Regions from separate parts of the Homo sapiens genome. Here region 2 is linked to region 1. Evidence: fine-mapped expression QTL. Tissue or cell type: whole blood. Region 1 holds a variant in brackets; the other region holds the start of a gene. All regions are shown on one strand. Distances are between the middles of the regions.

Region 1 (4,399 bases):
TACATATATGTACACATACACAAGTATGTTGTTAGAATATATGCTGGATTAAAGAATCTGCACACATATTTGGAGAAAGTTATGGGAGAAATGCAAGAGGCCTTGAGGGTGCCTGAAGCCGTAGGATCATCTTTAGTAATAAGGATCATCTTTTGTTCCCCAGGTACTCTGAAGGGCAATTCCACCAGAATGTACATTCCATGACATCTGGGACTTTGATGCATTGCCCCAGACGATAATACCAGTACCTACAGCATGTTCACCTAAGCACTGGTCAAGTGGATATTCCTCAACCAGAATGCAAACATTTCCATTGGTTTTAGAAAGCCCTGAAACAAGCTTCTCTTTGAGATTTCTGAGTTATCTGGGAGATTGCTGTGGGCTCTTGAATTTCCATTCCATTTCCTTTCCTAAGACACCAACTTGAGCACCTCCAAACACCCCCATGACTTAGGTCCCTTTGAGACTCAAACCACTTACCAGTCCCAAAAGAGTTTAAAGATTCTGAAATTCAGAATTGCATTTTAGAAGTGACCAGAGATGGCCAGGCGCCGTGGCTCATGCCTGTAATCCCAGCACTTTGAGAGGCCAAGGCGGGCGGATCACGAGGTCAGGAGATCGAGAATATCCTGGCTAACACGGTGAAACCCCATCTCTACTAAAAAAAAAAAAAAAAAAAAAAAAATTAGCCGGATGTGGTGGCTGGCGCCTGTAGCCCCAGTTACTCGGGAGACTGAGGCAGGAGAATGGCATGAACCCGGGAGGCGGAGCTTACAGTGAGCCGAGATCGCGCCTGTGCACTCCAGCCTGGGCACAGAGCAAGACTCCGTCTCAAACAAAAAAAAAAAAAGAAAAAAGAAAAAAAAAAGAAGTGACCAGAGGTAAGCTCCACTGTACCAAAAAAGGAACGACATCCTTTGAAGCTAAATTAAACTAGATGGTTTCCTGAAGAATGAGACTGGGTGCGGTGGCTCAGGCATGTAATCCCAGGACTTTGGGAGGCCGAGGCAGGCAGATCATTTGAGGTCAGGAGTTCAAGACCAGCCTGGCCAACATGGTGAAACCCCATATGTACTAAAAATACAAAAAAATTAACCAGGCATAGTGGTGGGCGACTGTAATCCCAGCTACTCAGGAGGCTAAGGCGGGAGAATCCCTTGAACCCGGGAGGCGGACGTTGCAGTGAGCTGAGATACCCCCACTGCACTCCCGCCTGGGTGAAAGAGCAAGACTCTGTCTCAAAAATAATACCAGTAATAATAATAAATCAATAAAAATCAGGTAAATGGAGCTGGGCAGAATGGTGCATGCCTAGAGTCCCTGCAACTCGGGAGGCTGAGGCAGAAGGATCACTCGAGCCCAGGAGTTCAAGGCTGTTGCCTGCTATAATTATACTTGTGAATGGCTACTGTACTGCAGCCTGGGCAACATAGCAAGACCCTCTTCTCTAAATAAAATAAAATAAATAAAATTAAAAAATCAGGTGAATGGTTAATTCCAAAAGTGAAGGGGTTGTGAAAATCAAAAGAGAGATACAGGGTTTCTGGAATGTTGGCAACGTTTTCTTATCCTTAGTAGTGATTATATGGATTATATAGTAGTGATTATATGGATTCATTTTATAAGTATTTAAATTTACGTATATACCTCATAAACTTTCTGCATGTTTATCTCACAGTGTTAAAATGCTTAATTAATTAACTGTAGAAAATTGATACAATCATCATAAGCATACATGCATCCAATATACAATCTTGAACTATATCAAA[C/T]AAACAGGAAAAAATACATAAATCACCAATTGTAGTTGGAAATGTTTTAACATGCATCTCTAAGAACTGTAGATCACATAGAACTGAAAATAGTATGGATATGAATGAGCTGAAATGAAAAACATTTTTAAAAATATGTAGAACCAAAATAAACAGGCACTCTTTTTGAATATACATATAACACTTACAACAATAGACCATGTATTAGGCCATAAAGGAAGCATCAATAAATTCCAAAGATCCAATCCCATTCAGACAATGTTCTCCTACTACAATGCATTCTGAAATTAACATTTGTAAAAACAATTGCTAAAATAAAATCCCACTTACTTGGAAAATAAATAACATATTACTAGATCAGACTCAGCTTATAAAACACTTAGAAGTGAATGAAACACTACATGACAGAATTTGTGTACTACAAATAAAGCAGTATTTAAAGGCAAACTTACAGTTTTAAATACACTAATAATTAAGAGAGATTAAAATCAAATGAGCTGCCACAGGAGACACAACCTCACACCCTTCAGGATAGCTACTATCAATAACACACACATACACACACACACACACACACACACTCAGAGAGAGAGAGAGAATAAGTGTTAGTGAAGATGTGGAGAAATTGAAGCATTTCTGCACTATTGGTGGGAATGTAAAATGATACAGCTGCTATGGAAAACAGTATGGCAGTCACTTAAATAGCTAAAAATAGAATTACCATATAATCCAGCAATTCCACTTCTGGTATATACCCAAAGGAATTGAAAGCAGAAACTCAAATAGAAATTCGTACACTTATGTTCATAGCAGCATCGTTCATAATAGCTAAAAGGTCAGAACAACCCAAATGTCTATCGATGGATGATGGCTAAACAAAATATTCCGTTTTAATAATATTCCATTGTAGTATTCACATACAATAGCATATTATTTATCCTTTTTAAAAAGGAATGAAATTATGGTACATGATACAACATGGATGAACCTTAAGAACATTGTGCTGGCCGGGTGCAGTGGCTCACGCCTGTAATCCCAGCACTTTGGGAGGCCGAGGTGAGTGGATCACCTGAGGTCAGGAGTTCGAAACCAGCCTGGACAACATAGCCAAACCCGTCTCTACTAAAAATACAAATATTAGCCGTGCGTGGTGGTGGGCGTCTGTAATCCCAGCTACTGGGGAGGTTGAGGCAGGAGAATCGCTTGAACCCGGGAGGCGGAGGTTACAGTGAGCTGAGATCGCACCATTGCACTCCAGCCTGGGAGAAAAAGCCAGACTCTGTCTCAAAAAAAAAAAAAATTGTGCTAAGGGAAATAAAGGAGTCACAAAAAGACAGCTACTGTGTGATTCCACTTTTATGAGATACCTAGAGTAGTCAAATTTATAGAGACGGAAAGCAGAATGGCAGTTGCCAGGGATTAGAGATAGAGGGAGGTGGAGAGTTATTAGTTAATGGGTATAGAGTTTCAGTTTTGAAAGATGAAGAGTTCCTGGAGATAGATAGTGGTGATGGTTGCATAACAGTGTGAATGTACCTACCACCACTGAGCTGAACATTTTAAAATGGTTCATATGCCAAATTTTGTTTTCTGTGTATTTTACCACAATTAAAATTTTTTATGGAAAACAAAAACAAACGTTCTGGCTTCCAGATTCCTATAGAATAACGCCAGTTACCTAAATTTGAATCTCTCCACACATCCTATAAACAAACAAAACTAAGGAGAACGAATAAAACCATCCATGGCTACAATATAATTTACAGACAGAGAAAATTATAAACCCCATTTTATATAAAAGCAGGTATATACATCCAAAACCAGCAGATCCAGTTACAGAGCCATGCTCTAGAAGAGAAGCCAAGATGGCACAGAAAGGCTAAACCACCACCAGAAAAAGAGTCCCATCTTGAGTGGAGAAATACTGACAATACGTCCGAGATCTGGTAGATGAAAGAACTGAGACAGATTTTAAAAGGGGGTGAAATTGTTTGAGACTGGCCATGGCAATGTTGCAAAGGCAAGAGGAAAGGCAGGAGGAAAGAGGCGACTTGAAGGGAAGGTACCCCTTCAGGGCTTGATGGTGAAGAAAAAGGAAGCAAGCAATGAGTAAGAGTCCCAGGCTGGGTGCGGTGGCTCACTGCTGTAAACCAACATTATGGGATGCTGAGGAGGACGGATATCTTAAGGTCAGGAACTCGAGACCAGCCTGGGCAACATGGCAAGATGCCTGTCTCTACAAAAATATTAAAATTAAATAAAATAATAAAATTAAATAAATACAAAATTTAGCCAGGCGAGGTAGCGCGCACCTGTGGTCCCAGCTACTCAGGAGGAAGCTGAGGCAGGAGGATTGCTTGAGGCAGAGGTTCCAGTGAGCTGAGACGGCGCCACTGCACTCCAGTCTCGGAGAGAGAGATAGACCCTGTCTCAAAAAGAAAAAGAAAAAGAAAAGAAAATTAAGAGTCCCACAGAAATGAAAGAGAATTACAAAATCACAAGGCATCAGTCGGTGCTCCACTCTAAAAAAGGGCTATTTCGGGGAAAAATGCATTTTGTTCTACCAACAAAAGAGGGCACTCTTGAACTAAGAAAGCTGGTAAGGCACCCAAACTTCTGCCTCATTTGCA
Region 2 (4,399 bases), 49 kb after region 1:
CCAGTTGAGATCATTTTTCCAGTAGGCATCTTACATTCTAAGAACTATGAAAATAGTTTTCCTGAAAAAGACAAGGGAAGCAGCAGCAGCATTCTCCTTTCCCCACACCCATATACACGCCTGTGCCCTGTAACTGAAGTGTGAGAGGCACAGTGTCATAAATGGGTAGATAGTAAGTGGGGACTAAAACTGTCAAGGGTGATCTAATTGGGGTGGGCTCATAGTAGTACTTCTGTGTGAATGCTTTGGTGGACCCTTAAGGTACTACATGGACCAGCCTGGGCAACATGATGAGACCCTGTCTCTACAGATTAAAAAAAAAAATTTTTTTTTTTTTTTAAATTAGCTGAGTATGGTGGTGTGTGCCTGTAGTCAGGAGGCTGAGGTGGGAGGATCACTTGAGCTTGGGAGGTCGAAGCTGCAGTGATCACACCACGGCACTTCAGCCTGGATGACAGAGACCCTGTCTCAAAAAAAAAAAAAAGGTACTACATGGAGATAAGCTTGAAGTTACTGTAAAAAAGCTACCTTTACTCTTGCCCTAAGTTATTTATTCTGATACGTCCTATGTACAAGTCAGTCAGTTCAGTCCTCATATCTACTAAAAGCTACCTTTATGCCCAAGGTGCTAGATGAGAAGACAGGGCCCCTGCCCTGGTAGAGCTGAGTTGGGCCTGGTCTCAAAATCCCGACTAGAGCCTGCTTTGTTTGCTCCTTGAAGGTGTTAGCCCAGCTCTCTTTTATCTGCCCCTTCCCCAGGCTTTGGAGGAGAAGATACGGACCACGGAGACACAGGTGCTTGTGGCATCTGCACAGAAGAAGCTGCTAGAGGAAAGACTAAAGCTTGTCTCAGAACTGTGGGATGCTGGGATCAAGGTATGGGAGGCAAGCCCCAGGGTGGCAGCAAACTTAGGTGTGCTGGACACAAACTGAATAAAAGCTCACCCATAATGGATCCTGCCATTACTTCTCAAAAGTAGAGCTAAGAACAGGGTGCCAGCTTGGACACCCTCTGTCCCTGAGGACAGCAGAAGCCAGCCTTCATCTTCTGCTCTTGTCCCCTGCAGGCTGAGCTGCTGTACAAGAAGAACCCAAAGCTACTGAACCAGTTACAGTACTGTGAGGAGGCAGGCATCCCACTGGTGGCTATCATCGGCGAGCAGGAACTCAAGGATGGGGTCATCAAGCTCCGTTCAGTGACGAGCAGGGAAGAGGTGAGGGAGGTGGGCAGGAAGGCTAAGGGACAGAGAATGTATGCCATTTTGGCAGGCCCATGCCCATTCAAGACCTGAGAAAAAGCCTGGCATTGATATTAGTACAACTCATAAAAGCCTTGAGGGCTTAACCTGTTACTGTGGTCTTAGTAGGGTGAGATCTCCATCCCTGCATATACCTTATGGTTTGTTGGCTCCCCCAAGAGGCACACTCTAGCCTGAGGTGTTTAATTAGGTTCCTGCTCCCAGCTGAGACAAGCCTGATGCCTAGAGGGCTAGAGGAAACTAGGCACTCGGGGAGCAGTGGAATGGAAGATGCTTATACCACCTTCTTCTCCCATCCTGGCCAGGTGGATGTCCGAAGAGAAGACCTTGTGGAGGAAATCAAAAGGAGAACAGGCCAGCCCCTCTGCATCTGCTGAACTGAACAAACTATCAGAGGAAAGGAAGTGGGACTGGCACTATTTGAGGTTAAGACAAACTGCATATGTACTTCAATTGCTTTGCACTTTTCCGTTTCAGCGGAAGACCTGAAGAGTGGTCAGAACAGAGCCTTTGATTTTTATTATGGTTATTTTATTGATTATTACTGGCAAAAACGGCCAGGTACAACACCTTTTTCATACAAGGCCCAGGAGGCTTAGTCCAGTCTGTGCTCCTGGGCTACAAGGACCCAGCCTGAGATGGTCCCATCTGCAGGGCCCCGCACCAGTTGGAGCAGATGCCTCCCCACCACCAATTGCCAAAGGTCCAATAAAATGCCTCAACCACGGAGTCTGCGTGTGTCAGTGATGCCTAGCCCCGCCTTCCCCAGCAGACCAATGTAGGGATGGAAAAGGGAGAAAAACAGTAAACTTGTGACCCTGAGGTTCTTGTCTCCAGCGTCCACCCTGCGGCTTGGGAGCTCCTCCTCGGGAGGCAGCCCCCGTACATACGCACCCGCGACTTTGCAGCTTTCACCTGAAGGTCTGAGCGAAGCCCGGGCGGCGCACGTGCAGTGGATACCTCCACCCCCCTGGGAGGCGGGGTCGCGCTCAGAGCCAATGAGAGCTTGCGGGGTGGAGGGGTAGGGAAGCTTCCAGAGGCCGGTGGGGAGGAAGTTATAAAGAGGGTACGAGGGGGCCAGCTGGAGAGCCATGCAGTCCAAGCGGGATTGTGAGGTAAGCGGCTGGCGACTTGGGGGCCGGCGAGCCCCGCCGGAGCGGGGGTCGGCTTTAGGGACCCCAGTACCACAGGAGAGGTGGGGGCGCGCTTGGCGATCCGCCATTCCAACCTTCCTTTCCCTCTCAGCTGTGGTGTGAGAGGGTGAATCCAGAGAACAAGGCGGCGCTGGAGGCGTGGGTCAGGGAGACAGGCATCCGCCTGGTGCAGGTGAACGGGCAGAGGAAGTATGGCGGGCCACCCCCAGGTACGGTAGTCCCAGCCCCTCCGCCTGTCCGGCTACACCAGCCCCCTTTGGGGGAGGGGCTGCTCCGAGCCTTCACTGTCAGAAACTGCGAACTACCCGGATTTATACCCCCCAGCAAAGGAGGAACTGTGGCTCCACGTCCACCCGCCCCGTCGAGGGAGGGGGCCAATCTCAAGGTGTACCTACTCTGTGCCAGCCCCCTTGTTAGCGCAGTCACCTAATTATGCCAACCACCCAGGGTACGGGTGTAAACCCATTTCACAGACCTTTGTTCACATCGCCTCCCACCCCCGCGCGCTGGGTCCGTGGGCTCAGAATTCGAAAGCGTCGCCTGACGGTGGCCTTGCATACCCTCTTCCCACAGGCTGGGTGGGCAGCCCGCCGCCAGCTGGGTCAGAGGTGTTCATCGGGCGGCTGCCTCAGGACGTGTACGAGCACCAGCTTATCCCGCTGTTCCAGCGCGTGGGCCGCCTCTACGAGTTCCGCCTGATGATGACCTTCAGCGGCCTGAACCGCGGCTTCGCCTATGCCCGCTACAGCTCGAGGCGCGGCGCGCAGGCCGCCATCGCCACGCTGCACAACCATCCGCTGCGGCCGTCCTGCCCGCTGCTCGTGTGCCGCAGCACCGAGAAGTGTGAGCTGAGCGTTGACGGCCTGCCGCCGAATCTGACCCGCAGCGCGCTGCTGCTCGCGCTGCAGCCGCTGGGTCCCGGCTTGCAGGAGGCGCGGCTGCTGCCCAGCCCCGGACCGGCGCCCGGGCAGATCGCTCTGCTCAAATTCAGCTCGCACCGGGCCGCTGCCATGGCCAAAAAGGCCCTGGTGGAAGGTAGGCTGGGGCGGGGGTGCTGGTTGGGGCCAAACGCGTTCTGCCCGGCACTTTATACTGAGCATAGCTGTTAAAGTTACAAGATCTTAGAGTCAAACATGCCAGAATTTGCAACCTTTTACTATTTGATCTCAGATTTTTAAAACTTCCAATGGTGCTACCACCACCGCTTACCTAAATTTGTGACACTTCCCGAGCATTACCTCCTGACTTAATTCTCAACCTTCCCCCACCCCCACACCGCAAAATAGGCACAGGACCCTCAAGCTATGAGGAAACTGTTAGAGAAATTGATTTGCTCAAGGGAATCCAACTGAGCTTTTTACTACTATAGAATCTGTTTCCTCAGACTGTTATGAGAATTAAGTAACATAATGGGTGTACGGTACTTAGCACACTGACTGACTTACAGCAAGTTTTCCCAGTAAAGATTAGCCATTATGATGGTTATGAGGCAGACAAAGCCTGCAATTAACCAGTACTTCTCCAAGGAAACTTGTAAGGTAGCAGTGTGTTATACTCCCTTTGCAAATAATGGAGGCTGAAGGCTTCATTGTCTTTTCTTACCCATGGTCACACTACCAGGAAATGGGAAGGCTACAAATAACAGGACTGTGTAGCTCCAAAGGGCTCACCACCTGGAGGCTTGGGCCCAGGGTTTAGACCTGCCCTTGTCTTTGCATTTTTCCTACAGGGCAGTCACACCTCTGTGGAGAGCAGGTGGCTGTGGAGTGGCTCAAGCCAGACCTGAAGCAGCGACTTCGCCAGCAGCTTGTGGGTCCCTTCTTGCGGTCCCCACAGCCAGAGGGCAGCCAGTTGGCTTTGGCAAGGGACAAGTTAGGGTTCCAAGGGGCTCGGGCTACCCTGCAGTTGCTGTGCCAACGAATGAAGCTGGGCAGCCCTGTGTTCCTCACCAAGTGTTTGGGCATAGGACCTGCTGGCTGGCACCGC

The links. PIP is the estimated chance that this variant, and not a neighbour inherited with it, causes the effect.
Region 2: it holds the start of DND1, and the variant in region 1 is fine-mapped to the expression of DND1 in whole blood (TOPMed, PIP 0.93).

What each region holds. Positions count from the first base shown.
Region 1 is chr5:140,720,325-140,724,723 of GRCh38, reverse strand. All of the region lies in intron 1 of LOC105378198 (a long non-coding RNA gene), which reads right to left. Among named protein-coding and RNA genes, the nearest start is that of ZMAT2, 22 kb to the right of the region's middle. The variant C/T (reference allele first, on the strand shown) is at 1,770.
Region 2 is chr5:140,671,494-140,675,892 of GRCh38, reverse strand. It overlaps DND1 (DND microRNA-mediated repression inhibitor 1), which reads left to right and starts at 2,317. Exons shown (of 4, transcript NM_194249.3): 1 at 2,317-2,374; 2 at 2,505-2,622; 3 at 2,987-3,448; 4 at 4,143-4,399. The coding sequence starts at 2,351. WDR55 (WD repeat domain 55) reads right to left here. Exons shown (of 7, transcript NM_017706.5): 7 at 3,548-4,399. HARS1 (histidyl-tRNA synthetase 1) reads left to right here. Exons shown (of 13, transcript NM_002109.6): 11 at 760-876; 12 at 1,068-1,214; 13 at 1,565-1,988. The coding sequence ends at 1,636. RefSeq lists enhancers at 1,852-2,647, 2,648-3,443.